Linked DNA regions of Homo sapiens: all the other regions are linked to region 3. Evidence: fine-mapped expression QTL. A gene starts in region 3. Each other region holds a variant in brackets. All regions are shown on one strand. Distances are between the middles of the regions.

The links. PIP is the estimated chance that this variant, and not a neighbour inherited with it, causes the effect.
Region 1: its variant is fine-mapped to the expression of CYRIA in whole blood (TOPMed, PIP above 0.99).
Region 2: its variant is fine-mapped to the expression of CYRIA in adrenal gland (GTEx, PIP 0.98).
Region 4: its variant is fine-mapped to the expression of CYRIA in whole blood (TOPMed, PIP above 0.99).

What each region holds. Positions count from the first base shown.
Region 1 is chr2:16,627,348-16,635,212 of GRCh38, forward strand. All of the region lies in intron 1 of CYRIA (CYFIP related Rac1 interactor A), which reads right to left. Among named protein-coding and RNA genes, the nearest start is that of CYRIA, 35 kb to the right of the region's middle. The variant A/C (reference allele first, on the strand shown) is at 3,418.
Region 2 is chr2:16,754,114-16,761,978 of GRCh38, forward strand. No RefSeq gene overlaps it. Among named protein-coding and RNA genes, the nearest start is that of CYRIA, 92 kb to the left of the region's middle. The variant A/G (reference allele first, on the strand shown) is at 4,764.
Region 3 is chr2:16,661,088-16,668,952 of GRCh38, forward strand. It overlaps CYRIA (CYFIP related Rac1 interactor A), which reads right to left and starts at 4,747. Exons shown (of 12, transcript NM_030797.4): 1 at 4,693-4,747. RefSeq lists silencers at 4,664-4,713, 4,784-4,953.
Region 4 is chr2:16,600,717-16,608,581 of GRCh38, forward strand. The region is part of intron 2 of CYRIA (CYFIP related Rac1 interactor A); the gene reads right to left. Among named protein-coding and RNA genes, the nearest start is that of CYRIA, 61 kb to the right of the region's middle. RefSeq lists an enhancer at 7,763-7,865. The variant C/A (reference allele first, on the strand shown) is at 4,426.

The DNA of each region.
Region 1 (7,865 bases), 34 kb before region 3:
AGTCCCTCAATGCCAGAAGCACAGAGCAACACTGAGAAACCAGAAGGGGCAGGTGTTTGGATAATAAAAATAGCTAACACTGATCAAGTACTTACTGTGTGTTGGGCTTTGTTTAGCACTGTACATGTAGTGACTCCCTGAAACCTCATGGCAACCAAACTAGGTAGGCATTATTATTGTCCCCTTTTACAGAAGAGGTAACTGAGGCACAAAATGATTAAGTCACTTGTCCATGGGATTTAGCTTTTGAGTGATAGAGTCAAGGTGTGAACTTAAGCAGTCTGGCTCAAATTCTGCAAAGCCAAATAGTGGAAAGAAAGAGAATAAAGCAAATACACTAGGAACAGATGACACCTTCCTTCAAAAGGAGAGAAGGAAGATAGGAGACTCTCCAGGCAGGAAAGACTGACAGCTGCTGTGCAGGCAGAATTAGGAATTTGGTACCTAGTGCCCTCTGGGTAGCAGCCGACCAATGTCAGGCAACACCAGTAAATGACATCCTGGTGTTGGTGTTTATACAGCATGGCTGGGCCAGGGAGGGGATGAAGGCAGGGCCTGAGATGGGTGGAGGGGATGATGCCTTGGAAAGCCAATTCCTATGTCCCAGAGAGATGGAGCAGCTGGGCGGGCAGGCAGGCGGTTCCCTTTCTGCATCCCCAGCACCAGCAGTGCACACATGCCCGGGACACCAGGCTTCGGGGATGCCACTGGGTTTCAGCCTCATGATGCCTGGGAAGCCAGGAAAGACAGGGGTCATCTCTCACCATTTCTACAATGAAGAGCTAAAGCCAAAAACAGTCACAGCCCTAGAATAATAACAACAACAACAGCCACCATTTGTTGGCAGGTTATGATTTGTCAGGAAATATTCTAGATGTGTATATAGATTATGTAAAAATGATACCAACTCTGAGAGGTCCATATGATTATTCTTAATTTGCAGTTGAGGAAAGCTAAGTAATTCTATAAAGGTCAAAGCTAGCAGGCTATGAGAAAGGATCTGAACCACCATTTATCGGACTGTGAGGCCCCTGATCTCACCTCAAAGCCGTGTGTGCTGTGAAATGGTTAAGTGACTTACCCACAACTGTGCAGCTGTGCTAACCCACAGCCAGCTTCTGGGCTGTCAGAGCACATGGGCACAGGCGTTTACTTCCACATACTCCCTACGCTACACATCCACACTAAGTGCTGCTAACCACTTTTATATACACAGTCATACAGTTGGGGTGATTTAATGGTTTATCATCCAAACGAGGATACCTCTGAGAGTGAAAGGGGGCCCTTTTAATAATATTGCTGGGACAACAGGCAGACACCAGGACTGTCCTAGGCATGTAAGAACATGCAGTCACCCGAATACAATCCACACTCCCACAGGCTGGTTATTTTTATGTCCAGTTGTGTTGGTAGAGGACCCTTCTGGGCAATGCCTTGCTTCCCAATCCACACAAATACTCTTTCCAAATAATCCACTCTCCCTGTGTTCACCTGCCTGTCTTCTGAATTCACGGAGCTTGTTGGCCTTATAGATAAACAGGCTGATGCCACTTGGTTATAAAGCAGTCATGTTATGGTTTGAGAAGGCAGGGTGTCACTAATTCAAACAGTGTATTTTAAAAGACTGGTGGGTTCCTTGTGCCCTGGAAGCCCCGGAACCCTAATACCCAGCTGTTCTGATAAGCAGCCTGTCCCTCAAGAGTGAGGACTCTGTGGCTGTCCCATTGAGGACAGCCTGAGACAAGCAGATGGGAAACCAGCACGGGAATACAGCTGCCACCACTACTGGACCTGCTGGAGAAACCGCAGTCTACTGGGAGGACACAGACCTGGGGTCCTCAGGGGACAGGCGCATCTCTAAGACAAGGCCTGGCCTTTTTCTGCTGCCAGCAGGCACCCATCATGCGTGGGAGTGAGCAGCTCTAACCTGGTGAGAGATCCTCCCTTTTCCCCTGACTGGGCCTAGTGGGGAAGGAGGTGGTGTTTAAAGCTCGTTTTTGTTTTACTCTTTCCCTAAGAATCTGCCTTCTTAGGAATCTCTGACAAGAGGAAGGAAGAATCTGCTGTTCTTTTGAAGCCAGGAAATCACTCTTAACAAACTCTCCCATCAATACAGGTAAAGTGCAGAGCTAATGAGAAAGCAGAGGGCATTTGTCTGTTCTCTGAAGAGACCGTTTCTGGCGTATGTTTAATCATGGAGCATCATAGGACCTCGAGGCCAGGGATTTTCAGAGGCCCCAGAGAAGCCTGCCAGCTCCTAGCAGCCCTAGAAACTGGCAGGGCTCTTGGAGGCACTGACGTGCAGGGCTCTGGGCCCTCATCCTGTGATAAAAGGAATAGAGATATTTTTTACCTGTTTTGTGTAGGGGCTTCTGCAAGTGATGATTTTTTGGTAAATAGACCTTTTTGCAAATTAGGCCATGTGCACAGGTTGTGGGAATTAGGGAATGCACTTATCTTCTTACGGGTTACCATTCAACACACAACAGCTGTGATTATGACTATATGTTATAATGTTATTCTGGGGGATGCTTAAGACCTAGAAAAGGAAAGGATTTGTCTGATGCCACCCAGCATGCAGCCTTCCCATGGTGGGAAGCCGAGCATGGAAGAAGCCCAGAGACCAGATAGTGACTAACTGGGAGTGGCCGTGGCTCAGGCAGTCCTAGACAGTCAGAGGCCAACACGCCGGTGATGATGGTGATGGGGCAGAAGATACCAACCCTTATTCACTGAGCATTGACTGTGTGCCAGGCATGGTCTAGACATCACCTGGATGTTCTACCAGCCCTCGCCCCACTCTTGCTGGAAATGGCAGTGCTCCTATTATCCACATCTTACAGATAAGGAGCTGGACAGTCACTCAGAGAGGCTGAGTGATGAGCTCTGGGTTAATGGCGAGTAGATAACGAAGTGCGCATTTGGACTCACATCTGAGGGACCCCCACCTGGGCCCTGACCACTGTACTCTACAGCAAAGGAGAGGACCCAGGCCACCCTCAGAGGTGGTGTTTATGAGTCATGGGGCAGAGAAGGCAATTGCAAGTGGCAAATGGTAGCAGAACCAGAACAAGAGCCCAGATCTCTACTCCTGGGCTCACATTAGTCCCATTTCCCAAGGCTGTAGTTTAACATCTCTCTGTGGTCTTTGTAACACCTGAATGGCCATTAAGGTGAGTGCACCCATGTTCAGGGCAGGAAAACACCTGCCAAACTGGCTGCAGCATTCAGGAAACTCCACCAAGCTTTTCGATGAGTTCACATTGCACTGCCTGAACACAACCGCTGGGGTGGGTTCCTTCTCCTTGAGACTGCATTTTAGAATGTCAGTTACACCAGGTCTCCTTTGAGTGAGGAAGTGGGAGACACATTAGAAACCCAAGGAGACCAGCTTCCTCTTCTCAGACAACCCCAAGC[A/C]ACAGCACAATTGGATGTCAGACAAAGGGTCATTTTTACCTCCCCTCTTCCCATCCACGGCTCCAACTACAGGAGCATCACCATTAGGGAGGGGTAAGGGGCACACCTTAAGCAGGTTTGAGATGTCAGCGGCTGACAGCCTGCCTTGTCTCCATCAGGAAGGCAGCAATAAGACAAAAACCAACAATCTGGGCTGTGGAGTCTGAGCCTGACCACCCCCAGGTGATGCAAGCCAGGAGGTTGCCTTGACTTGGTCTTGACCCGGGTCTACCCCTAACTTGGCCTTGGCTGGGCTGTGTGACCTTTAGTCAGTCACTACTGTCAGATCCTCAGATACAACACCTGTTAAATGCAGATCATATGGAGATATATACCAGCAAGCCTCTTTGGACTACTTTGAAAACCAAATGAGCTATTATATTTGTGTTCGTGTTTTATCTCCACCATTGAGTGGAAAGTTACTTAATAGGAGAGGTCATGTCTCATTCATCTTTACAAATGATTGTAACTAGCCCAGAGCCCTGCACAAATGAGAAGAGGTGATGGTTGAATTGTAAACTTCAGCTTCTCTGAGGGCAGTGAATAGCCCAGCGTAGCTGGGGAGGAAGGAAAGAGGTGGCAGAGATACAGTGAGTAGATGAGTGGAAAAAGAGGCTGTTGTCAGGCTGTGGAGGACTTTACACATACTGATGCTTCTAAATTTCATCTGTAGCTGGATGGTAAGCTGATATCCCAAATGCTTTAGTAAGCATTAGTGGAGGATGGGGCTGTAGAAAGAGCCTGGGGACTCAAGCCCAACAATCATAAACCTCAGTCTCAGGTCTTTGGAGCTAAGCCTTAGTTGCCTTATCTGCAAAATGAGAATAACAACTTCATTCCAGGGTCATTAGGGATACCTAGCATTTAAAGTGACCAGTGCAGTATTTAGTATCTATTTGAATTTCAGCAAATACTACTGCCCTAAATGAGTGAGGCCAAGCTGACCTTGACTATCAGATGTAACGGTATGTTACAGAGGTTCTAGGCCAACGCTGCCTTGGAGTGAGAAACTAAGCAATGGTACCATGGCCACGCTGCAGTGAGGACAATCTAGAGTCAGTCTGGCTACAGTCATGTGTTGTCCAAGTTTCCAGCAATCCTGGTATGCTCTGGTATATCCTGTGAACACCTACAGCCCTCATGTACCCAAAGGCCACATGGTGTCACATGGCGAACACCCCCTGAGTCCCACAGACCACCTCAAAGCTTCCCAGTGCCCCAGCCTGCAGCACTATCTACAAGGGACACTGTCAGGTGGCTTCTGTTGGGTGTTCCGTAGAGACCACTTATGCCATAAGGCCGGCTAGGAGGCACAGCACTCTGGGCTGAGAAGCAGGAGATCTGGGTTCCAGTTCCACATGGCAAGTGACTTGCCCCATGCACAGTGGCTGAACAGTCTTGGGACTCTCAATGCCTGGAAGTGCCCTTCAGCGGAGTGTTTCTATAAGAGCTTAACCTAGGAGACACACTGACATTTGAGAAAGTCATGTTCTTATCAGGCAAACCTCTGCTAAAACTACCCTGACAATGAAGCCTCTTCTATAGAATGCTCCTGTTCAAACCCAACAGGAATATGCTGAAGTTCAGAGGGTGCCTGGTTTCTAGTTTCCACCTTACCAATTCCTGTCTGTGCCACCTCAGGGGAGTCATTACACACTCATGAGCCTCAATTTCCTCATGTGAGCCTCAGAGGCAATGATATATCGCTCATACTATTTTCTAGCAAACTGTTTCCTAACACTTCACAGAAAGTACAGATCTCATTTTATTTGGATACTCTGAGGTTGGTCATCCTTCATCTTTGTGGGAAGAGCCAGACACACTTTCACAAAGCAGGCACGGGGGAAAATGAAAAACTTCCATCATTCTTGGGAAGCGGGAGAGAGTCAGAGTCCATAGGATGAGGAATGATTGAGAATGCACCCATGACAGCTGGGAGCCGGCTTATCTATGATGCTGGCAAGGGTCATCCCTGGCCTCGGCAGACAAACACTGGCAATTGCGCTCCAGACAATAGCACAGCTGCTCTTGTTCCTAGGCTCCCTGCTGTGAGGCAAAGCAGGGGTCATATGATCAGTATTCAGCATTGCATTCGTCCCCAAGATGCAAAGGGATTCTGCCTTCCCCAATAGCACAGGGCTGCAGGAGGGGGGTGCACACCCTCCACCCCAATGAGGGGAGCAGCGGATAGAAGAATAGATAATGATAAGATTCCCCACAGAAACTGACTACAGGAAAATGCAGTTTCCATGTGAGAACCACCACTTCTAATAAAATCCATATTCCTAAGCTGAGGGTACAAGTTCTTCCATAAATGACTGCATACTAATTAGAGCCATCCTTTATGTTAACTCCCAGCTTAAGCCCAAATGTGATTTACTGCAGCTTTGTACCCTCTTGCCCTGCCTTGCAGCCTAGACTTTCACCCCCCACCCTGTCTACCATCCTTCAAGGCCAGCAGCAGAGTTTTACTTCCTCCCTGAAGTGTTCTCTGATACCCACCTAAGACCACAATCCATACTGACCTCTCCCTTTGCTGAACTCTCATAGAACTTTCTGTCTGTGCCACTCAGCATTTAGTGCCTATGAGTTGTCTCATGACTTTTATTTATTTATTTATTTATTTTTGAGACAGGGTCTCGTTCTGTCACCCAGGCTGGAGTTCAGTGGCGTGATCTTGGCTCACTGCAATGTCCACCTCGAATAGTTGGGATTACAAGTGCAGGTCACTATCCCTGGCTTTTTTTTTTTTTTTTTTTTTTTTTTTTTCTGTAGAGAAGGGGTTTCACCATGTTGCCAAGGGCTGGTCTCAAACTATCTGCCAGTCTCAGCCTCCCACGGTGCTGGGATTACAGGCATGAGCCACCGCACCCAGCTACCTCATCACTTTCTGACGGGACTGTTACATCAATCTCCTAACTGGTTTGATCCTGCTTGGGCTGTGGCCCTGTCCTCTGCAGAAAAAAGTTTTCAAAACACACATTTGATGATGTGTCATCCCTGCTTAAAACCCTTCAAGTATTTCCTACCACCTTCATGATAAAGTCCAAATGCCCTACCATGCTCCTACCCTTCCCCTGGGAGTATCCACATTCCAGTCACACCAAAGTGTTTCCCAAGGTTATATAATGAGGTGATATCAAAGGCAGGAGGAGAACCTGGATCGCTGAATAACTAGCTGAGGGTTCTTCCCTCAGTCCCAGGTGCTTCCCAGGCTAACGTTGGACCACAGACAGAATGACTAGGAGCACATGACACTGAGTCATGGTCGAGGTGAAAAAGTCAAGACCAACTAAGTATTTAGGCTTGATAAGCTTACACTGTTGACAGCCAGCCGATCCACTAAGCAACCAAGTGGGCAGCAGGCATCTGAGACTCAGGCAGAGGTTCATCTACTCTTTACACCAACACTAGGAAGGGGATCACTATTTCTCCTTTTGCAGGTGTGGAAAATGAGGCTCCCAGTGGTCACAGCTGCTATCTGGACTAAAACACCAGCCACACCCCTTCTCTTATATTCCAGAATGGTAAAATCCAACAGCCCCCCACTGTCACCACTTTGATGCCTCCCAAGCATCTTACAGTAGACACATCTGATGGTAAGTAACAGCATCTAGTCCCTGCCCAAGAGACCATTCTGTCCAGGACCCCCTTCTGGGGAACTTCATTTCTGCTCTAAGACCAGAGGTATCCCATGACTTTTCTAATTCCTTCAATGGAAAGACTGTGAAAAGAAACTTTCATTTAACAGAAGAGGGGGATAACTCCACTCTAACTGCTTTATGTTTATCCAGAGAAGTTATCAAAAACTCTTACCAGGTGACTGCTTTCCCCACAGCACATCACAGTGATAAGGGCATGTGTCTGGGGGGTGGCAGAACAAGGTCCAGAGGAGAGCAAGACTAATATGTGATCAGCAGCACACATGGACTTGGGGGCATTCTGAGCTGGCTGGCACCAGCTCACCAGATCCAACTGTACAGATCCCTTCCCAACTTCACATTCAGTGACGCCATGGAAGTAGCTTGAAACCAGCCATGGTGGAAGTATTTACACCATGGAAATTGTCCCACGCTCCCAGCAAGTTTGTTTGGCTTTCGTTTATCCCAGATAATTGGTTATTAAGCATTTAGGAGCAAACCACTGAATGGATCCATAAGATGGACACTGGGTTGGGAAGACAAGACTTAAATTGTAGCTAAAGCTCTACCGCCAACTCACTGTTTGACTTGAGCAAGTTTCTTCCTGGTCCTAAGTTTCCTTAACTGTAAAGGACATAAAGAGCACTTTGGTAAATGTAAAATAGGGAGGAGACATTTGACAATGTCTGCAGACATTTTTGGTTGTCACAACTGAGGTAGATGTGGTGCTACTGGACAGGGATGCTGCCAAGCATCCTATCACGCACA
Region 2 (7,865 bases), 93 kb after region 3:
AGTTCCAAAACTGAAGAACTTGGAGTCTGATGTTCAAGGGCAGGAAACAGCCAGCACAAGAGAAAGATGTAGGCTGGGAAGCTAGGTCAGTCTCTCTTTTCATATATTTCTGCCTTCTCGTATTCCATCCATGCTGGCAGTTGATTAGATTGTGCCCACCCAGATTAAGGGTGGGTCTGCCTTTCCCAGCCCACTGACTCAAATGTTAATATCCTTTGGCAACACCCTCACAGATACACCCAGGACCAATACTTTGTGTCCTTCAATCCAATCAAGTTGACACTCAGTATTAACCACTGCAAATGGTGCTCCCCATAAAAGATGTACATCTGAACCTGCACATGAGACTTTATTTAGAAAAAAGGTCATTGCCATTGTGATTATGTTAAAGATCTCAAGATGAGATCATCCTGGATTAGGGTGGGCCCTAAATCCAGTGCCAAGTGTTCTTACAAACAAGAGGAGAGAAGGCCATACGCAGATGGAGGCAGAGCTCCTTTCTGGTAAGACTGAGTGTTGGTGCTAAACTTGTTAGTATGACAGTGAAGGTCCTCCAGGATCCTGACTCTGCCTAAAATTTCAGGTGTGATTGCCACCTCACCTCCTCTTTCATCCTCATGCCCTGAGTGAAGAATCCCACAGTTTTCAGACAGTAGACTCTTCCCCATGTCCCTGTCATTGCACCTACTGTTTCCTCTGACTGCTGTGTCTTGCCTGGAGTCCCCCCTCATCCTTCAAAGTGGGGCCTGCAGGGCATCGCTTCTGTGGTGCACCTGCTGTCTGTCTGCACACTTTCCCTCCTGGGCTGTGGATGCTTTGAGGGCAGGGGCTGATTGTTTTCTAGTTTGAATCTTCTGTCCTCACCCCAACAACCTTACTGAACCTACTGGTAAAAATACTCTCAATGGAATCAGAGAATCCTACTGTAGCTGGAAGGAACTTCAAGACCATCCTGTTAACCCCCTTCATTTATAGTGGTGGAGAGTGGGAATAAAAGTCCTGAGGCTAAGATAATTTAAGTCACTGGTTGTCATTTGCATCGCTGGTTGGCAATATTTTTGGGACTATCAGCCAATAGTCTTCACTTCCAGGTCATCACAGGGATCCTCACAGGGTTCAAACTAGCTCCTTAATCAGGCCTTTCAAAGAATATAATCTCCTGTTCCTGTCATGTCATTTTGGGGAAATTTTCTCAGTAGCATTTTGTCCACAGACACCCCTGGGATCCTACATCCTACCAAGAACAGAGCCCTGTGTTCAGGGCCAGGCTCAGCCCTTTGTCCCTTCCTGAGCTGTGGACATGGCCACACGTGATGGAGCTGCAGAGAGAGGTGGGCATTGCAATCCTGTTCTTAGATAGGAACTGCCTTCTCTCCCGGGAGAACTCTGCTAGTTGGAGGAGCCGCTGTGGCCTATGCAATGGTCTTGTAAAGAGTTCAGGGCCCAGATGGATCCAGCAGATGCAGAGTGATGGGACTTGGAAGGAGCCCTTCTTAAGTGTCCAGCGGCTGGCTTGTCTCCCTGAGTCCGAGCTGTGTCTTTGGTTAGAGTGAGTGTGGGTGGGGAGAGGGGGCGATCTACACCGCTTGGAGAATTGATGCAAACAGTAAGTAAAAACAACTGTGAAGGGAAACTGGTCCCACGACCCACACTGCTTCATAATCACATTTTTTTCGGCCTTTTGATTCTGGCTTCATCTCATCTGTTTGTTTTGGATGCTTCGTTGAAGCCAGCTACTCCTGAGAAATAGGAAATGACACTATGCAAACAGCTGAAGATGGGACAATCCCGAGTCATATTAAACATGGGATTTTCAAACAATTTCAACAGAAAAAAATCAGTGAACAAAGAAATAGGAAGACAAGATCTTCAAATATCCTCCACTGTTAGCCAGTGAAAATACAAACTGATTTACACATAAATTACATCTTGAGGATGTCTCTCCTGTGGATTTACGAAAAAAATAATTGTCACCACCAATGGGGCTTATTTTTCCTCTGTTGATATTGTTGCCAGGCGGTGATCCTCATTTGCTGCCTCCTTTCTATCCTGTGGCCACGGCCCTAAGTCAGGCTGCATCGACTTCCGGCAAAGCTCCTACCTGTGAGTCTGGCTCTGGTCTGATCCCATGCAGCCTCCCAACCCATCTCTGCATCAGGGTGCAGCCATGCCACTCTCCTAAGCTGTTTGATCCCTTCCTTCTCCAGCTGAAAGCCCCATGATGACCAGATAACTATCATTGCTCTGGGATAATGCAGAGCTACGGACCACTCCATACACCGGGTCTATGTGCTTCCTACCTCCCCGGCTCCTCCCTGCCTCTGTGGTATCTAACTCTTCTTTTAAAATCTAAGTCCCAGCTACCCCAATACATGTTCAGCCCTCCAAACCCCGACTCTCTCATGGCCATGCCTTTTTCCCACTGCCCTCCTACATGGATAGAGCCCTCATCCTCCTAGTGTCCTCCTGCAATGCTTGGCTCACGTGTCAGTTGTTATATGAGTCTTCCTGACCGGCCCGAGTCTCTGTGGGAATTAGGTTGAGCCACTCCAGCCTCGGTGGACCCTCCTTAGACTGTCCTGTCACCTGTAGAGCCCTGTCACCCCTTTTTATGGACCTGTCTACCTGCTGGTCAGAGAATTCCAGAAGGCGGCATCAGCTCTGCCTGAGGCACAGGACACCTGGCACAGATGAAGGGTTAAGTGGATATTTGTTGAATTTGTCAGAGAGCGAGAACAAATCTCAAGTGCGATGGTCCCTGCTCATTCCTCTCTCCAGCCCCTGCCTGCATGTGCCTCTTGTAGAGACAGCTGCAGGGCCCGCAGGCCAGAGCCCCTGGGTCAGAGCAACAACTGCCTTGTGTTTTCTCCAAAAATGAAGATTGCAAAATCCTCGTGGCCTCGAGTTCACAGCTGTGGAAAGAAACTTCACGAGGTGACGGTGGGGTCAAGGGGCCCGGGTGGGGACGTGGGGACCACAGGGCAGGAATGAGCACCCACGGAGAAATGCAGTCCCGACCCCTTCCACCCCTTCAGGTCTGGCTGTATAAACTCGGAGAGGAGGCTGCTCTTCTCAGCTTTTCCCACGTTTCAGTTTTCTCTACATCTGGTTATGTAGCAATGCCTTCTCATCCCCTGAGAGCTAGCACCCCAACATATTTACTGAACATCGGTCTGGGTTATTTGCGTGTCATCAAGCTCCAAGGGCATTCAAATGACCTTCTGGAGGATGCACAGTGCCTTGGGGAACGGCGCCACCTGGTGGTCACTCGGAGTTAATAACCACATTCTAGGGCGAGGAAGCCTAGAGCATACTGGAGGGACCAGGTGGAGGCTCAGATTAAACAATTCCTGCTGCCGCTGACACATCTGTTCCATGGTGACAGAGCTGAGTGTGTGTCCCTGGCTAGAGGCAGTGATTGGACAAGGATGGTCAAAATGTATCCTTCTGGAATCTGAGCGCTGAAGGGTGGTTTAGAGACCAATACAATCCCAACCATTCATTTCTCAGATGGGCAAACTGCAGTCCAGAGGGGACAGAGGTTACCTAAGGTCTTTCAATAAATTAGTTGAAGAGATGGGGCAATAACACAGGTTTCTGGGCTCCTTGTCTGATACTCCTCCATTCTAGCACTTCAGAGCACCTCACGGTGATGTCCGTCCTTTATTTTATTTTATTTTTTAATTTGAATTGCTGCTTTAGACGAAAAAGAAGGCCAACCCCCCGCTGCCATAAACATCTTCTTTCTCTTTCCTAAATTCATATCACTTGGTCCCGACACCAGTCTTCCTTCCTCCAGGAAGTTTTCCCTGAGCAGTTGGAAATCCTCCTTCGGAAGCTCCCAGGCAATCTACCCGATACTGATAGAGGGACCGAAGTTGACTCTGGGATATGGTGTGCACAGACACAGCCTTGCCCCCAGCAGCTTACAGTCTAGTGGGGAGAGACAAGTGACAAACACACAGACAGACAGATAGATGCAGAAATGATGGATGGATAATTTCAGGTACTAACGAGGGCTTTGAAGATGATAAATAGGGCACTGTGATAAAGAATGGCTTGGAACGGAGCTATGTCAGCTAGAGGGAACGGGAGGCTGGTCTGAAGAGGGCTTAGCTGTGGAGGACAGGCAGAAGGTGGTTATTATGAGGGGAGAGCACTCCAAACAAGAAGAACAGTAAGTGCAAAGGACCCAAGACTGGAATGAGGTTGGCAGGTCCAAGACACAGAGAAGGCTGGAGAGATAGCCGGCTAGCGGACAAGACAGAAGTCGAAGATGATGGGATCAGAAAAGACAGGGAAGGCTGGATCTGGAAGGACTAGTTGGGTTTGTATGCTGCTTGCAATGGGAGGTCATCAGTAGGCGTAGGCGGAGAGTGGCATGATCTTATGTATACCTTAAGTGGTTCGCATGTGCACTAATGCTTAGGAACTCCTGATGTAATCCCTCGGCTCCTGCAGAAAGTCTTTTCTCACCCACCAAGTTAAGGAAGGTGTCCTTCATCCGACTCCTTGAGTTAACATCTTCATGCCTCCATCGCTGGGCCTACCACCTTGCTTTCGAATCAACTGTTTATATGTCTTTTTACTTCACTGGAAAGTAAGTCCAATATTCAGAGACACAGCAGTACAAAGTCAAGATCCAGAACAGACTGTTGAGATGCAAAAACTCGCTCTACCACTTCGTAGCAGTGTGGCTTTGGACAACTTATTCATTCAGCGTGTCTTTGCTTCACTTTCTTTATCCGAAAAATGGGGCTAAC[A/G]GTATCTCCTGCATTGGACCGTTATTACAGTTAAATAATATATGAAAAAAATCTCATAAAAATGGCAGGCACTATGTAATTATAAATAATAGATATCATTTCTGGGTGTTTTCTCAGGCCTCCCATTAATAAGGTTGGTCCCAGAGTCTGTCAGGGCCTCTGGCTGTGGTGTGCATTGCTCATTGAATGGGGATATGGGACTACACAGGGAAGATTATTCCGGGATACAGTTTCTGGCCTTGGAAGAAAGAGTTGGCCTGCCAACAAATGTAAGAGGCAGGGATTGTTCTTAGCTTCATTTTATAGGCAAGCTCAGAAAGGGTAGTTTGCAAAGTGACCCAGGTATTAAGTATTAAATCCAGGATGCAAATATAGGTCTGTTTCACTCAACATCCAAGGTTGTTCTTTCTAGTTTTGTTTGTTTTAATTTGATTTTAACCCCACAGCACCATGCATGGGTAACAGCTGGCCTTAGAGCAAATGTATTGCCCTAAACGATCATACTGGTGTCCGAAATCCTGCCATCAGCCATCTGCCTTGTCCATATGAGGCCCAGCTTTCTGGTAGGGGACTAGGCTCTTGGGTGCAAAGGTGTGAGTTTTAAGCTCTAGGTGACAACACGATAAATATGGAACTACAATGTCTTTCTCAGACCCTGACCCCAAAATGGAGGTAACGATCCCCATTACCTTCCAAAGGGCTAAGCCCACAGAAGCTATTAATGGTGTTCAAGCAGATTCTGGTGGCTACTCTCAGATCAGAAGAGGACCTGGGTACGCTAGCCTTTAAATTTTGAATGTGATGAGGATAAACAGCAATAAAATGAAAGTGGCATTTGAAAAAGAAATATTTTCAGAAACAGATTGAAGACTGAAATTTGCATTGTAGTTGTGTCTATCAAGCTTTCCCTTATCGTGTTTAAATTAGAACTTGCTTATACTTTTTGAATTTATAATTTGCCCTCTTTCAAAATTGCAAGGATACAAACATAGGCAGGCTTGTGCTGGGAAGTAGCAGGGCCTGGTGGTCAAGAAGAGCACAGGACCCGGAGCTTAGAGGACTGGCTTTGATCCCCAGACTTCCATTCATAGATCTGGGACCTATATGAGTTCTTCAACTCTCTTTGCCCAATTCCTCTTTGTAAGATGAGAGTGACAGTGGTACCTGCCTCCTGGTGACTGGCACTGCTTAGAAGAACACTTGGCCCATAATTTTGTTAGCGGTTATTGTTACTGTTGCTATTATTGCTCTAAAAAGTAATTTGAAGGCTGGGCGTGGTGGCTCATGCCTGTAATCCCAGGACTTTGGGAGGCCTAGGTGGGCGGATCACGAGGTCAGGAGTTCGAGACCAGCCTGGCCAACATAGTGAAACTCCGTCTCTACTAAAAACACAAAAACTAGCAGGGCGTGGTGGCGCGCACCTGTAATCCCAGCTACTGTGGAGGCTGAGGCAGGAGAATCGCTTGAAACCAGGAGGCAGAGATTGCTATGAGCCCAGATCACGCAACTGCACTCCAGCCTGGGTGACACAGCGAGACTTTGTCTCAAAAAGACAAACAAACAAACAAACAAAACAAACAACAAACAAAAACGTGATTTGAAATCTTACTAAGAAAGAAAAGAACATTACACCAGGGCTAGTGACAAAAGAATTCTTGAAATAAAGTTCCACATTTGGTTTTATGTAAAAACAGAACCCACATGTAAAACCAAGCAAAGCAAAGGAGAAGTACAGTACTTTACAAGGTTGTTATGATAAAGCACAATCTAGTTCGCTGGAAGAGTTGACTGCTGTCACAACAAAGTGACCTTGAAATTCCAGAAGTAAAGCGTCTGCCTTCAGCTGTCCTTGCCCATGTTGCTTCTGATTTTTCATTATTTGGGTTGGTGTCTTTCCCTTCAAAATCCAGCACAAGGCTGCCCCATCTCCCTGCCTCCAGTGCCATGGTCCCGCCACTGTCCCCCCTCCCCGGGATTGCTTCCCTGAGCCTCAGTCTCCTAGGTGGTCTCCCTGTTTCCACACTTGCCCCTCCGCAGTTTCTTCTCCACCCAGGAGATGAGTAAACGCCCAGGTCCTTCCAGGTCGCTAGAGCCCTGTGAGATGTGACTCTGGGCACTTCTCTGATTTCTCACATCTCCTTCCTCACTGCATTCCCACCATCCTGTGCCCTCAGTAAGGCTTATGAACCTCTGCAAACAAGTGGGTCCAAGGGCTTCCTGGGAGCTGTAATAATTTGCTCCTTCCCTTTCCCTTTCCTAACATTTCCTCTTGTTTTCTTCTCTTCTCTCTCTGTGGTTTTTATTCCTCAGTTACTAAATTACTGATTGTGTTTCTCAACCAAAGTGGAGTTCGGTTCTCTTGGTATAGCAAATGGACACACCCATTCCCCTCTGAATTAAAAGCACATTTCATAGACACGATTCAGAGGGACCCTTACAGAAAGGTTAAAGCTTGTTAAAAATAGTTTCTAAACAAGTCAGTTATGAGCTTTATATTTTTATTTCAATGAATTTGCTGCAAGAGTAGAAAATTCTTAGTCCTACAAAAGTTTATTAGAAAATTACTCAACAATTTTGTCAGAAATTCTAATTTCTTCCAAGAAGAAAGATACAAATAACTTTATATAAAAACATTCTTTCCCAGAAAGTAAATCAGTATATCAAAGGAATACCTGCACTCCCATATTTACTGTAGCACTGTTCACAATAGCAAAGATATGGAATCAACCTACACATCCATCAACAGATGGTAGATAAAGAAAAATGTGATATATATATGTATATGTGTGTATATACATATATAATCACATCTTCACAGTGTATATGTGTGTGTGTGTGTATATATATATATATGTATACATACACACACACGCACACACACACACACTGGAATATTTTCTGGCCATAAAGAAGAATGAAATGTCATTTGCAGCAACATGGATAGAACCATAGGGTATTATGTTAAGTAAAAGAAGCCAGGCACAGAAAGACAAATATCACCCGTTCTCACTCAGATATGAGAACTAAAAAATTGGGCCTCACAGAGGTAAAGAATAGAATAATAGGTACCAGAGGCTGGGAAGGAAGTTTGGGTTGGGGAAG
Region 3 (7,865 bases):
GCCTGGGCAACATGGCGAAACCCCACCTCTACAAAAAGTGAAAAGATCTTGGTGGTGCACACCTGTGGTCCCAGCTACTCAGGAGGCTGGGGTGGGAGGATTACTTGAGCTGAGGAGGTTGAGGCTGCAGTGAGCCATGATGGCACCCCTGCACTGTAGCCTGGGTGACAGAGCAAGACCCTGTCTCAAAAAAAGAAAAAATAAATAAACTGAATCCAAGTCACCTTTGTATCTGAAGAGCCATCCATCCATATGTTCTGACCTTGTTTCTCCTGTCTCTGTATCCCTGGAAAGCAACTGTTATGCTTTCCATTCATAAGTTCAATCATAAAATCTTGGCCTGCTTAAAGGTTCAGTTTATTTCAGTGACAAATCAGCAATCCATTCTTGTGCAAAGGAAGCTACTTCTAGCATCATCAAACATTTTCCTTTAACTCAGATGTGTCAAACTCCTCTTCTATTCATCACTTATAGAAATAACATCCCAGCCAACTGCAGAAGCAATTCTTAAGGCTGTGGTGACAGCAAAATCCTAATAAACTCTCTAAATATTTACTAAGAGACTGAGTTACAACACTGACTGGTTCCACCCCTGTTAAAATCTGCCTGCATTCTCCAAACACAATTATTTTAGGTCACTGACACGCCAGCCAAGGAAACGACAATGCTGTGTACTACGGCACAAAGAGCAAGCAGAACCTAGCTTTAAATTCTGGTCCTGCCACTTCCTAGCTTCTAGACACGAGGCAAGGGACTTTACCTTTCCCCATTTTCTTAACTGTAAAATGGGGACAATAATACTAATGTCATAGAATTGTACTGATAATTGAGAAAAATGTATATTAATGTTTATAGTAACTTAAAAAAAAGAAGTTCAACATGCTCAGAATAAAAAATACGAGGCATTCATTTTAAAGTATTCTCACAGATAGAATATGTTTCTAAAACTCAGGGTGTTTGCTGCCACTTCAAATTTGTTCTCCTTTGAAAAAAAGAGTGTTGGTGATTCGTGCATTGTTGTGGTATTGTAGAACATAGCTTATCTAGTGAGCAATAATTTGAAAATTAACCAGCAGTGCTAGGAGCCTGAGCATGGGCAATTTTTAACCTTCTCAGATAATGAATGGATCTCCAAAGGCTAGAATTCATCCAAAGAGCTTTGTACCATGGTTTTAAGGGGACCCAGAGGTCCAGTAACTGAGAACGCTTTTCTAATCAATATAACTAAATAACAGCAAGTCTACTGTGAAGTGGGCACCATGCCAGACCCTTTAAATACATAAGATCATTTAAATCTTAGAAGGCAAGTATAATTACTGCAATTTCTCAGATGTAAGAATTGAGACCCAGAGAGGTTAGATGCACCTTCAACCACAGTTAAGACAAAGCAGTAGTGGAGTTTGAACTCATGCCTGACTCTTAAGACCACTTTCTTTCTAATCACCATGATGTCTTGTCAGGTAATTCATGCAGCTCCTGAGACAAGATTCTAACCATGATGAAGTTGGAACCGGAGACTTCTACGAGAGGATGAGTCAAAACTCAGTAAGAAAGGCAGTCCTGGCTCCCTGCCATGCTTCTCTCCCCTACCCTGCTCACAAGGGCTGATGTGTGGCTCTCCAACCATCACTCCATTGCTCCTCAAGTGGACAGTGGAAGGACAAATGTATTTCAGCCCCAAAGCACAAATCACCTGATTCAACCCTCATGGGTGACCTAGTCAAGTGGCCACCTCTGGGCCCTACATCAGCCTGCCCTTCCTTTTATCATACCACCTGTCTAACTGTATTATAAGGATCTTTTTCCATGACTAAATTTTTTTTTGAAAACAGAAATGCTGCTCATTTTTCGAACCCCTAGTTCCCAAAACTGTATTTGGTACAAAGCAGATACTCAATAAATGTAAGATACATAAATAAGTTAGAGGATTCAACATCAAGGCTGGGCAAAATGCCCCTGGAGGATGCCTCTAACCCTGAGATTTTATAGCTTAATTATGCCTAAATTAGTTTTCAATCTCTGGACAGTGGTCCAGGGCTGTCTTTAAGATTGAGATCTCCCAATAGAACTAGGACATTATGGGTCCTTCAGCCTTTCAAAGTGTTCAAAGCATTCCCGGTAGGCTATTCTATGCCATCCTAAAAGAACAAGAAAATGTGGCCAGTAGGATAGATGCTGTCAACCCCATTTTAAAGATGGAGAAACTGAGGCTATATGAGTGAACTGACTTTCTCAGGACCAACATTTGACACTGAGGCTGCTGATTCTCTGGTCTTTTTGTGCTACCATAATACGTGCTCAGCTTATTTTTAACAAACCTAGAGCATGGCAATGTGAAGGGACTGGCAGGGAATGGAAAAGAAGAGCGTGTACTGAAGAAAAAAACACCAGGGAAGGGAAGGAACAGCCTCACTGGAGAGGGTCACTGACAGCTGACAGTGGGTGCCCCTATGGCCCTGGGGAGCTATGAACTCCTTGCCCAGGGCTGGCTTGGGAGGGTCTACTTGACTCTGGGTCCCTGACTTATCTAGTTGCATCTAGGCCTGGGAGCAAATGCAAACTGAATTCTTCTTGGTGCTGAGTAAAAACAGGAAGTCACAAGTGGCTTTGCTCTGCTCTCAGCTGGGGTCCTCAACAGTTCAGGTCAAGGGTACACTTGGGACACTCCAGACAGCTTCCTGGCAGCTCCCTCCACAGTAGTCCAGCAGGGACAGGAAAAGTGGAGACACCTTCTAAAGAGCCTCCTATAGTGTGGGTTTAGGCAGCTGGACTAAGGAAGTCCCTGTGATCCCTCGGACAGGACCAGGGAGCCCAACAGAGATGCGTGTATGTCAGCTTCATCACTTTTCCATTCATTGAACCAAAACTGAGGGCTGACTGTGTGCTCAAATCAATGTGACCTTAGGGAAATAACTCACTTGCTCTGAGCTTAGTTTCCTCATCTGCAAAGTGGAAAGAGCCCCTGCCCCATGGGGCTATTGTGAAGATGAAAGGAAATAACACCAGTGAGGTCCTTTGCCACATTTGGTATCTATTTTTAGCACTGAGGCAGTATGCGCCCACTATGTGCCCAAGCCCGTGATGCTGCTGCTGCCCCCTTCCCAGAGCCAGAGCCCAGAGGCAGGAGGGAATGTGGGCAGGTCTGTTTCCACCTCGCTTTCCCACTCTCCCCTCACAGGAACCCAGGGCCAGCAGGAGGTGAAGTTCTGCCAGCCCCCAGCCTGGGCCCAGCGCCCATGTTTATGACTGTTTATTTCAGAGCAAGTAGAAAGGAGAAATTAGAGCCATGAAAGACAGGACAACGGACCAATAAAAACCAGCTCCCAGAAGAGTCAGAAGGAGGAAGACAGGCAAAACTGTCACCATAGCAACACAAGACAGTCAGAAGCACGCAGGAAAAACAGCCCCTGCTCTGCCTCCTGTCTCCACTGCAAAGCAAGCCCTCGAACCCCAACCAGAGATCAGTGAAAGCCGACAATGATCCACCCAAAGAACTCTGGTACCCAAGCCCAGACCTGGCTAGCAGCCACTCTCCTCCTGCTGCCCCAGCACAAGTCCCAGCCTTCCAGGGTCCCAGATCAGCATTCTGTGCCCTGGGGACTCGACACTGTGCAGATGGCCCAGGTCCCATCCAGAGGAGATAGTGACTGGTGACAGAGAGGAAAGTTTCTAACAGGGAGAAAAGGAGGGTCACAGAGCTTCAGGGGAGATCAGGGCCCTAAACTCCAGCCCCATGACCCTGTCTTGGGTTCCCTGGGGAGCAGGCGGGTAAACAAGGGTGTGGGAGAGGACATCAGGCCCTGGACACAGAAAGATTGCTCCATCAGTTCTGGACCTGGCACCCCCAAAACAGTGGCTGGGGGAATTCTGGGGATGCGTGGGGAAATAGCTTTGGAGGCCTTAAATGACAAAGATCTTGGCCCTGGTCTCTGGGGACACTGGCTAGCGAGTAGGAGCAGCTTGGAGGAGGACCCAGGGACGGGCTGGCCCATTTTGACAGAGAATGTCTCCTGGCAGACAAGACAGGTGTCTCCACCAAAAAGCATGGCTGGCCTGGGACCAGCATTTTGGGAAGTGGGTCAAATTGTTCCCAAAGCTCAGTATTGGAAAAGTGCCTTTTGCCAAACTGGGGTTCTGGGTTCTGGGGGAGGAGAGAGGGTGACGGCAAGGTGTGCTGGGTCCTAGGCACAGCAGCTTTCTGGCTGGCTAAGAACGTCTGTGGCAGGTGGCAACAGAAGGGTCCAGGTGTGCAGGGGCTGGGGAGGGGGCCATCCCTCCCTTTGGGGCTGTAGAGAGTACCCAGGACCCCGGGGCCTCGGGTGGTGGGAAGGGGAGTGTTAGGGGTCCCCTGCAAGAATGGAGCTTATGATACCTGGGGTGGGGGGTAAGTGAGTGAGGGACGAGGGAGGGTGGTCTGGGAAAGGAACACAATCAGGAGGCAGCCCTCTCAGAAAGAGGGCAACGGGGCACAAAGCCGGACCTCTGTCCGGCGATCGCTAGAGAAGGGCTCCCGGACGGTGTCCTCCGCTCTCCCTCCCTCCCAAAGGCTGCAGGGGCGTCCGGGAGGAGAAGGATGGCAGGGAGGCGCCCGCCCCGCCTCGCGGTGCCCCGCGGTGCCCCGTGCAGGCCGAGCCCCGCGCCCGCAGACCCCCGCCCGCGCCCCTGCCGCGCCCCCAGCCGCGCCGCGCTCACCGAGTCGCCGCCGCCCTGCTCTGCCGCCCGCTCCGCCGCCGCCGAGTACGCCTCTCCCGCGGCCGCCGCAGCCTGCGAGACGGCCTCGGAGCCCCGCCCCGCCCCTCCCCGTCCCTCCCCGCCCCGCCCCGCCCCCAGCCCGGCTCGCGGCAGCCGCCCCGCCCCGGCCCCGGGGGATCCCCACCCGCGCTGTCACCGGCCGCGTCCTCACCCTAGCCTGGACAACCCCATCTCTTTGCCCGGCTCTGCTCTCTGCTCCCAGGAGCTGGTGCGGACCCGCCCCAGCACGGTCGCCCCTGCCCCTTCTCAGCCTTGGCCACTTGGCCTTGCCTTCCCAGAGGAAGCCCGAACCAGACCTTTCTGTTTCTGCACACCAAATTCCTCCACACCCACGGTTGCCCTCCAAGAAAAAGAAATCCCCGCAATCTCTAGACGCATATTCACCTTCAAATTAATGCCCAGCCAAATCATCCCAATCCCTAGGCACACTCCAAATTACTTGAGATTCTGAACCCAGTCTCGCTCCCAGTCCCTTTCTGCCCACCCTATTAACAGATCTCCAGCCTTGGGGCCCGCAGTTATCCGATAGGACCACTGTAAAGTCTTCCCAAAGGCTCAATCCAAAACATGTAATTAACCTTAAAGAGTAAGTCTGCAAAAACACTTAAAAAATTCTATGATGCAAAAAGAAAGTAGTGGGTTACAGCGTCATTGACGTGATCATTGTTCTAAAACATCTGCCATGGAGGCTTTTTGCATTAGAGAGAGGGAGATTCAGGAAACCGGAGAGGACTCAGCAGTGCCAAACAGGTTGTGAGTCAGAGCTCCTGTTGAGGGGAGGGAGAGCTCCTGGGGACCCCGGCTTCGGGTGCTTCCTTTCCCAGTCCATCAGCCAGAACATCATGAAACATGTGTTAAATCCCCATAGTGTGCCAAGGTACGTGCCCGAAGCTGCATGGGTTGGGGCCCTGTGTGGGCTGGGATCAGAGGAGGCGGGAAGCATCAGGAGAAGGTGTTCAGGCCCCTCTCCTTTCTGAGATCCAGGGTGTTTCCCCTGGGAGGACTTGTTGCCCAAGCTTCCTTTGCACTCTGAAAGGCTCTCCTGAACTGCCCACAGAGGCTCTTGGTCTGTTTTTTGGCAAAAATTCACAGAGGGCAGGAAGGCACTGTCTAGTTAGAGTGAAATATTTTCCCACTTGGAAGGGGTCCTTAGGACCAGAAGAAACACTTTCCCGTTCTCTTTTTGAGTTTTCCCCATGCCCTAGACCAGCCTCTGTTGTCAATTCCTGCAAAGGTGTTTTTTTTGTTTTTGTTTTTTGAGACAGAGTCTCACTCTGTAGCTCAGGCTGGAGTGGAGTGGTGTGATCTCGGCTCACTGCAACCTCCATCCCCCGGGGTTCAAGCAATTCTCCTGCCTCAGCCTCCAGAGTAGCTGGGACTACAGGCGCCTGCCACCACATCCGGCTAATTTTTGTATTTTTAGTAGAGACGGGGTTTCACCATCTTGGTCAGGCTAGTCTTGAACTCTTGACCTCGTGATCCACCCACTTTGGCCTCCCAAAGTGCTGGGATTACAAGCGTGAACCACCGCAGCCGTCTGGCAAAGGTGTTTTATCTGTGAGTGGCTCTATGAGAAAAGCCTTCTTGCCATGAGGTAAACCATGTCTACTACACACACACACACACACACACACACACACACACACACATACACACACCCCTAAAATTTTCTGGCTTAATCTGTCCACCTTGAGTTTGGCCAGGTTTTGGGAAGAGTGAGGACTAATCAGCCACAAACACCATTCATCCCCATAAAACACTATCATTTCAGACCATGAGAGGACTTTTCACTTTACACCCATCTGTCTCTACTAATACAGCTCAAGTTTGTGAGTAGACTATTTGATGCATGAGATTTCACTTCCACACACTTAGAGATGGCTTCTGTTTCAATAATCGAGGGATACCTGCATGGTATTGCCCAGCCCATTATGAAATAATAGGGTTTTCTAATGATCAGTGTGGAATTTAATAATTGAATGTTTCCTAAGACAAAATTACCAGATGAAAGTCTTTTAACTTTATCAGTAATACTAATAACAAGTTTAAAGGTTATTATCATAAAGATTATAGTGAAATTAAACTGCCATTTAGGAGGCAGGTAAGTTGAGACTGAATTTCAGATGGTTGTCACTCACAATATGTGTGCTAAGATGAACCTTAATATCTTAATTAAAGTAAATGTATACTGAGCTGTGCTAGTTTCAAGGACATCTTTTTCATGTATTTCTTTTTTAAAAGAGATTGATGAAGCATGGACAAAGTGCCAGGCACTGTGCTAAGTAATGGAATAAGGACACAGTTCCCTGGTCTTGAGGAGGACACAGGCAGGCTGCCTGTGGAAAAAGACTAACAGAGATATTTGCTGTGTGGACCCAGGAAAAGAAAGAATTCTTTGTGATTGGGGGAAACTGAGAGCAGATTCTTGAAAAGCGCATTTTTAAGCTAAAATATGACGTGGGAAGTTAGACTTCAATAGGCAGGAAATGCGGACAAAGACACTCCAAGTAGAGAGACAAAGTGGAGGCCTGGGTGAAAAGTGGTCCGGGGTGGCCAGCGTACCAGGGGGATCCCACAACGTGGGACAGAGAGTGGAGAGCTAGAACAACAGCCTGAGAATCTGCACTTGATCCTGGGAGCTCCTGGGGACTGAGTGGCCTTAACCAGAGCCCCGAATAAGGAGCCTGACGATAGGTTAAGGTCCTTAGCAACAGTGAATGGAGAAAGAAGAGAAGGCAGCAGTGAAAATGGTAAGCCCCAGAAGGTTGATTCTATCCAGGGCTCCTCTCCACCCACTGAGACGTATCCAAGGGCATGTGAAACATTCTCTCTAAATCCCTCAGCAACTTCCCTTTACCACCTGACTCCCTTGTCTCTTCAAAGGATCCTTTCTGCTTCTGGACTTTTGCTGACATACCTACCTCTGCCATCTCAGCTACCAAAAATTATTTCTTCCGATGCTAGTGATGCGCCTTGGAGACAGTGTGATACTTTGGGCTCAAACTTCTGTCCTCTGAATATTTCTATAAAATTGACAGTCTGAGCCACTTACTCCTCTGACACATCACTTGTGACAGCTGTTTCTCAGGAGTGGCATGCAGGACTTTTCACAT
Region 4 (7,865 bases), 60 kb before region 3:
ACATCAGCATTTTATTGAGTGCCCACTGTGTGTGTGGCACTATACTTGAAGCTTTCACACACTTTATCTCATTCAAACCTTACAGCAAACATCAGGTAGCTATAATTATCATCACATTGATTGGGGGGATAAAAAGGAGGTTCGAATGGCTAAACAATTTTTCAAATACTACAAGAAAATAAAAGATAGAGTCACATTTGACATTGAAACTCTGTGAATCTGAAGACTATGCTCTTTTCTGCACAGTAGAAGTCCTGGGGCTCCACATCCCTAGGAGGCCCCTGCCTGGGGACTTCAGAGAGTGTGGTCAGCTGAAGGTATGTGTAGGGTGCTGTATTGTTGAATGAACACGCTCATTTTTTCTGGGGAGACAGCCCATAGCTTCCATTAGATTCCAAAGGGGTTGGCTCTACACTAGTGCTACTCAATAGCATGTACAGGAAGGGAGGTGTTTCTTTAGGAAATGAAGGAAAAGAGAAAATTATGTGGGGTGAAGTCTTCTGGAAGAGTTTGCTCGATAGAAGAAGCAAGCTGCCACCCAACGTGAAGAATACTGGGAATCCGGGTTGGCTGAGAGAAGCCCTCCAGCTGAGGGGGTTGGGGGGGATTCTGAGTGTGAAGGGAACACAGAATACACATTGGGTGACCCCTCAATCCTCCAAAAACAGAGAATTTCTTCCTCAAGATTCATTTACTGTGCTAGTATTTTGAAATAGGTTATTCAATTTTTTTCCCCCAAATAGTCTAGAATATGGGTGTTTCTCTAGTCATTTTAGGAGTGGTAGCAATGCCTCTAAAGCCTGCCTGCACGCCCTTGCCAAGGGAGGCACTCATCTTTAAGGGGTGACAATTTTGGATGTACTCATGGTATTTTCTATGACCGCTTTCTTGGCTCTCAGTTCAAAACCACTTCTATGAGAGTTGGCTTTAAGGCTATTCAGTGGAAAACCATGACTCTCTTTAAGAAATAATTCTCTAGTCACATTTCCAGTTTCAAAAAAAAAAAAAAAGAGAGAATTCATATATGCAGACACTGTTTTTCACTATTTGCAACTCTATTTTTGTTTAGAAGAAAAATAAGTTGATAGCATTAGCTGCACTCCCAGAGTATAAAACCAAATGAAATCAAGCAGGGTTTATTTTAAAAAGAAGTGACTGTGGTTTATGGAGAAATTCATTTGTTTTCTATAAATAAGACATATCAAAGGAAGCAGGCCCAGGGAACAGGGCAGTGTGAATGATGACCTCTGCCTGTGTATACCAAAATTTCAATGCTCAACCTTCATGAGTAGATCACAAGCTCCTAGGAGATTTCTTTCTTTGGTTATGACTATTTGAAAGGAGAATTCCTAAGCCAATGCTACTTTTTATCAATAATGAACAGAAGGTGAGAAAACAAATCAATACAACAGCAGCCCTACCAGGGTTTATTTTCTAACATTTTTTTAAAATCTAAGACAATAATACTCATCTCTAACAGATAAGAAGACCTCTATCAGAAGGGATAGATTTTCTTATCATTTTGAATGACCCAATACCTTCCAGAATCTATAATCTTTAGCCTCTCTGGTGCAAAGACTTGAAGAAATCGAAGACTCAGATTGCCTATAACAACATTTTGGGAATAAGGAAGTCCTGACTCATCCAATTTTTTTTTTGGCAACATAGCATTTAAACTACAGACTGACCATGAATACACCAATAACATATATTTATATAATTTCACATCTTTGTCAAAGATGTGTCTGATTGCATTTATCTTCAGTATGAACATATGTCAAAGGGAGAAAAGTTATCATTGGACCCATTTTACGGGTATAAGAACTCCATGACCAGGTATAGTAAGTGTCCTTCCCAAGGTCCTCCAGATGGGTCCTGGACTTCATAATATACAGGCCCCCTACATCCCCAAATTTAATCTGAATACACTCCATATTAGAACTGGGGTCATCTTTTTAAAGCTCTCATTTTACAAAAAAAGAATGGGTCCAAGAATCCACAGCACATTAGGGTCAAAGAAGGGACTAGAAGAGAGATGTTGTGGCTCTCAATCTCATGCTCTCTCCATTAATACAAAGAGTAAATGGGGCATCAAGTTCATTTTCTAAGACATGATGAACTCAGAATGCTCTTTGCTCCCTAATAAGGACACCCTCGCTGGTGGTCCAGAATAATTTTTTTTTTTGCACACTTTCCTTCCTTCTCAATTTGATTTTCCTGATTCATACCCTTGGCAGAGCTTGCCAGTATCCTGCAAATAGTCTCCAACTTGATCTTCCTGACACCAGTCTTGTCTCCCTTCTACTCATTTCCATGCTGCCGGCAGAGCCATTTTCCTAATCACAAATCTGAGATACTACTTCCTTGCTTAACATGCTTCTGTGGCTCCCCAGTGCCTGTCGGACAGAATGCATTCAAATGAATGCACTGGGCACAGAACGCCTGGACCCCGCCCCCTCCACTCCAGCCTTGCCCTGCACATCCCATCCCTAGAGTGGCTCTGCTCTTGACTGCCTCAGGGCCCTTGCACATGCTGCTCTGTCTGCTTAACATTCTTAATGATCTGCAGGCCAGAGTGAGGAGGGTGCTTTATGTATTGCCATATTTTAATTTTTACAACAACCATATGAAATAGTTACTGCTATTATCCCAGTTTCAGAGATAAATAATCTTAAAGACTTAGAAACTTACTGCATCTCACCAGTGACAGATCAGGGTCACTGGAATCCCCTTCTATCTGACATCTAAGCACCAGCTCTTGGCAATTGCTTCCCCCACACTTCCTTTGAAGTAGGAGGGTGAAGATCAGGACCCTTGGAAGGACCCCCTGAGCCCTCCCTCCCCCTCTATTCTACACCAGTAAAAACAAAAGCCACTCTTCTGAGTGAGCTCCTCGTCTCTGCTCACCTAACATGTCTTGTGGGCCATGCAACAGTGCCTATCGCAGCAAACCATAATTACATACGCTTTCTCCTGTATCTCCCTGTCTTCTAGGGCAGGGCTGCTTTTACACCACCTTGTATTCCCAGCACTTAAGGACAGGACTAGCATGTAGTAAGCACTGAAAAATAAATCCTTAGGATTGTTCTGACTAGTGGTTCCCAAGCCCTCCAAGGCAAAATGAGAAAAACAAAGCCTACGTCATGAGCCTTTCAGAAAGTTATTCAAACACTTCTATGTTACACGGTTTTTATTTATGTTGGAAAATGATGTTGTAATTATATCCTAAATATGCCAGGTTTATTTGGAAATGTTACTGGTTTTTGAAATCCTGAAGTCTAGGAACACGCACCTGGGCTATGCCTTGTGTGGGGCTGGGAGCAGAGCTACAAGCGTGACCTGGCCTCTCACGTCGTCAGGCCAGCGCCTTCATCTGCACCTGCTACCTCGCTTTGTTTTATCGTTAAGTCTGACCTTCTAGCTACTATGGGGCCCCAAGATTTCCCCAGCAGGGTAGAAGAAAACAGAGTAGAGGAAAACAGTCCAGTTTTGGCTTTAGGAATGTTTCTGGAGACTGGATGTGATTTTAGGAGGGCAATTAAGACAATCTACCTTTCAAGCTTATCAGCAAGGTTCAGAGTTGGAGAAATCCTGATGGGCAGCCAGGGCGGCCACTGTTGTCAGTGACATCAAAGGCTTGCAGATGTCCCACAGTGCTCTGCAAAGCCAGCAGCACTTCTGGCTCCTCCCAGCCATCGTCTGGCATCCAGTGGGTGTCCCAGGAGGAAGGGGCCCAGCCCTGACATGTCTAGTATTCAGATGACTCAGACACGCTTTCTCCTGGTCACCACAGAACCCCGTTTACAACATGTACACCATCTGACTGTTTTGAATTACAAGCAAAACAAACTACCCACTTCCATTTAATCATCAGCTTACAATATATCAATAGGTGGTGTTAAAAAATACTTCTCATCTAAAGGTACATTTCTTAAATGATATAAGCAGCTGTTTTTCTGGGGAAAAATATGCACCACTGGAATGAAGTAGCTCAGTTGATACATTCTGGGAGCCTGTATTTGCTAAGCCAGGTTAGCCATTTTAGATGGCGGGGCTGGGCTTGCACATCCCTGCTCCATCTGCCATTTTTTGCAATGAAGTCATGAGGTTTTCTGTTCCATTGTCAAATGTATTGCCAAGAATCCAACAGACGATTTCATTCCGAGATGAAGGAAGAAAACTGAAGTGGAGTGAGTCTATTAAGCACTTTCATCTGACAATAAAAATGAGTTAATGGCTAAAGTGTGTTTTCAAAACGTTTTAACACTACAAGTAATGGCACTCAAATGAGAAAATGCCTTGAATATTCTCATCGATCATTAATACCATGGTGTCCCTCAAAAGGGCTTGGCATTCCCCATGGAATACAAGCTGCTAGAGTCCAGTTGTAAGGCAATTCACGGGAATTCTAAAAAAAAAAAACCA[C/A]GAAACCATTATGGAATTGAACAATTAAGTGCAGGTTTAAAATAGTTCTTTCAATATCTGAGTTCAGTTTTCTAAAATAGACTATTACCTCATCATAGCTAATTTTTCCATAAACATCAATAGTACAGCAGCAAAAAGTACCCAAGAAATGAGGGCAAAATTAGATTCTTTTTTAGGGAATGAAAGTCAATGTGTCCCCCACTTTCAAATGCTAGTGACATGGAAGCAATCAAACTGGGCTCAGCTCCGGCCCAGGCCACCGCTGGGAAGTCACTAGTGAATCTGTCCCCTTTCTCTTGGGAAATCAAGAACATGCTTATGAGGAAACTGCTTGAGACACCTGCTTCTTACCTAGGCAGGTGGACACTCTCAGCCTACCCAGGCCCGTTCTGCCTAATTTCAAATGGAAAGGTACCCCATGCAGGGCAAGGGGCCCCAGAGACCCAAGCACTCATCTTGGAGACACCATTCACTTAGTGTCATGTTGGGCAAGTTGCTCTTCCTCTCTTGGTTGGTTTCAACTCCAGTCTAGAAAGTAAAAGGGAACACCTAGAAGTTATCTCAAATTTGGGCTGTTCTGATAGTGAATTCGCTTAAACAGGCTGTCAGTTTTTTGGATTACAAACCTCCTTTCTTCAGAATTCATTCTCAAGTATTTAAATAAACAACAGCCAAGACCCTCTAACCCTCTGAGAGCAGAGCTGTAGGTGAAGGCTTGTCATGGGCACCGCTGAGCAACTTCTCCTTGCTGAGATACTTGGGACCCATCTCCTTCCTCATCTCTCACCTCTCTGGAAGTTCCTCCTCAAGTTTCTACTTTGTCCATCTGGCCTTTAAGTCTTGGTCTCCATGTTCTTTCTTCAGCCTTTTCTCATTCTCCCTGGTGTGACCCTTCTGACTCCAATTTCCACCCATAGGCAGATGACTCTCAACCTCTGGCTCTATATTAGACTTCTGTCCCCAGCTCCAGGCCCATCAATCCAAGTGAATGTCCCACAAGCATAGCCATTCGGGGAAGGCCATAGAAACCTCACTTTCCACTCTTTCCAAAATCTTCTCCTCTTCCCTCACCCAACAAAAAGCATTATTATCCTCCCAGTGTCATAACCAGAGCCCTGGGCACCACCTGAGATTTCTCTACCTGCTGTACCCCTTGATCCACTCTCCCACCAAACTCTCTCCATGTCTCCCTTAGATCCATTCCTCTTCCCGATGCCCTTCTCTTGGGTGTCCTCCTCCTTTCTCTCTCTCCAGTCTCTCTCTCTCCTCCTCCCACTCTTATATTGGATACTTGAGACCCCTGGGATCATTCACCAGTCTCTGAACATGTTACAGGGAATGTCACATATACAACTAATTCTGGGGAATTAAATCTCTTCCATTCCTGTTGTCTTACAATATAACTAAAAAAAAAAAAAAACAAAATGAAAAAGAGGCCTTCTCCTTTTCCCTGCCCAGCTTTCATTCCACAGGCAACTGTGTCACACATTTGTTCTTGAAGTTTATCTGCCTCCATAGTTCTCTGGCAGGTGGTAAAATACAACCTATCAGGTCAAGGGACCAGGAGGCGAGTCCTGATGAAAATGGTCCTTCTGGGAAGCAAAAGGCCCTGCAGAATTCGATGGCCCCAGGACCTTGGGATGACTCGACATCTAAGAAGGTTTTCAGATGTTGAGTTTTCTTAAACTGGAGCTCATCTGGGTACCAAAGGAGGCTTTGGATGTGACATGTCAAAGCAAAGGAGCAAAGGAAATTTGCTCCCAGGTCAAATTTATTTTGGGAAGTGCAGGGGGATATAAAAAATTATGTTGGTACCGAAACAAAAAAAAATCCAATAAAAGCCATCACATACAAAAAACCTGAAGAATATGAGGCCAAGAGAGATTAGCATGCTCCGTGAAATCTCAAGCATCAAGAATGTCCAAAGTGTTGAAACTTCACTTGAAATCTCAGAGACAGGTGCGGCTCTGCCTTTGTTTCCAGCTTCTGAAAGGAGCAATTGCCCTTGTTTCAACGTACTCATCATTGCAAACAAAACTAACATGTTAAAATAAAAGCCCTGGCTTGGTACCCGAGCAAGCTGTGCAGACGGTCAACCTAAGGCTGGGACAGGAAAGGTGGATGAGGTGAGAGTCTGCAGAGTGGTGGGAGGTGGGCCTGTCAGGCAGGGAGGGGCGGGTGGGGGGTGCTACTTCCTGAGACAGAATCCAGGGAGCAAATAGAATACAGAGTTAGCTGAGTCGACGAAGTTAGCCATGGTTAGCATAAACGCCTGCTAAGCTGGCTGTCAAATAAAGCTGGGTAAATTTTTTACTTGGTATGCAAGGCTATAAGCCTGGCTTAGAGCTCTCTTTCAAGATTCCGCCCCTCTGCTGAAGCTACTCTGATCACTCTGTACATAAGCCACACCAGAATATGACAGTGGAAGGGCTCCTGCCTCCTTGCTTCTGCCTTTTTTCTTTTTTTTAGATGGAGTCTGCTCTGTCATCTAGGCTGGAGTGCAATGGCACTATCTTGGCTCACTGCAACCTCTGCCTCCCAGGTTCCCGGGTTCAAGCGATTCTCCTGCCTTAGCCTCCCAAGCAGGTGGGATTACAGGTGTGTGCCACCACACCTGGCTAATTTTCGTATTTTTAGTAGAGACAGGGTTTCACCATCTTGGTCAGGCTGGTCTTGCACTCTTGGCCTCAAGTAATCCACCTGCCTAGGCCTCCCAAAGTGCTGGGATTACAGGTGTGAGCCAGAGTGCCCGGTCCTTGCCTCTGTTTTCTTGCTCATACTGTTCCTTTTGCCTTGAACGCCTAAAGACGGCCTATCGTTTCTCCCAGTAACCTCCTCCCCAAACCCCAGGCATAAGTAAGCACCTTTGCTGTTGTGGATTCTTGCAGGGGCTATCTCTGACTGGCTGTCAGTGTTTTAGCCATTTCAACCACTCCTCCTCACTCCTCCCCGCCCAACCACCAAGCAGGGTCCCACACATCGCATTATTCATTTATGGCCACTGAGATGGATGGGAAGGACTGGATAAGTAGTCACTACCCAGCAACAACAACAAAGACATCACCCACACAGACTGAGCAGAGAAAACAGTCATTGGTGAGAGAAACGGGTCTGAGAAAAATAAGCATTTCCCCAAATATAAACACTTTTGGGTGATTAGCCCTTTTGTTTTAGGACCAGAGACTACTTTGAAAATCTAATGAAAACTGGCTTTCTCAGAAAAATGCACACATGCAGACTGATACACTTTCAGGAGGTAAAATAAATACACGGAAGCCCAGAAACGAGGGAATCCCTCATCTATTTTAAGATCGCAAATTTCAGTTTATAGATGGCCAAGTGGAATGAGGACGGCGTTTTGTAGTGTGGACCACGGACTAAGCTACTCTAAAAAGGAAAGGGAATCATTTCATGGAAACAGCATGAGCTTTGGAGACGTT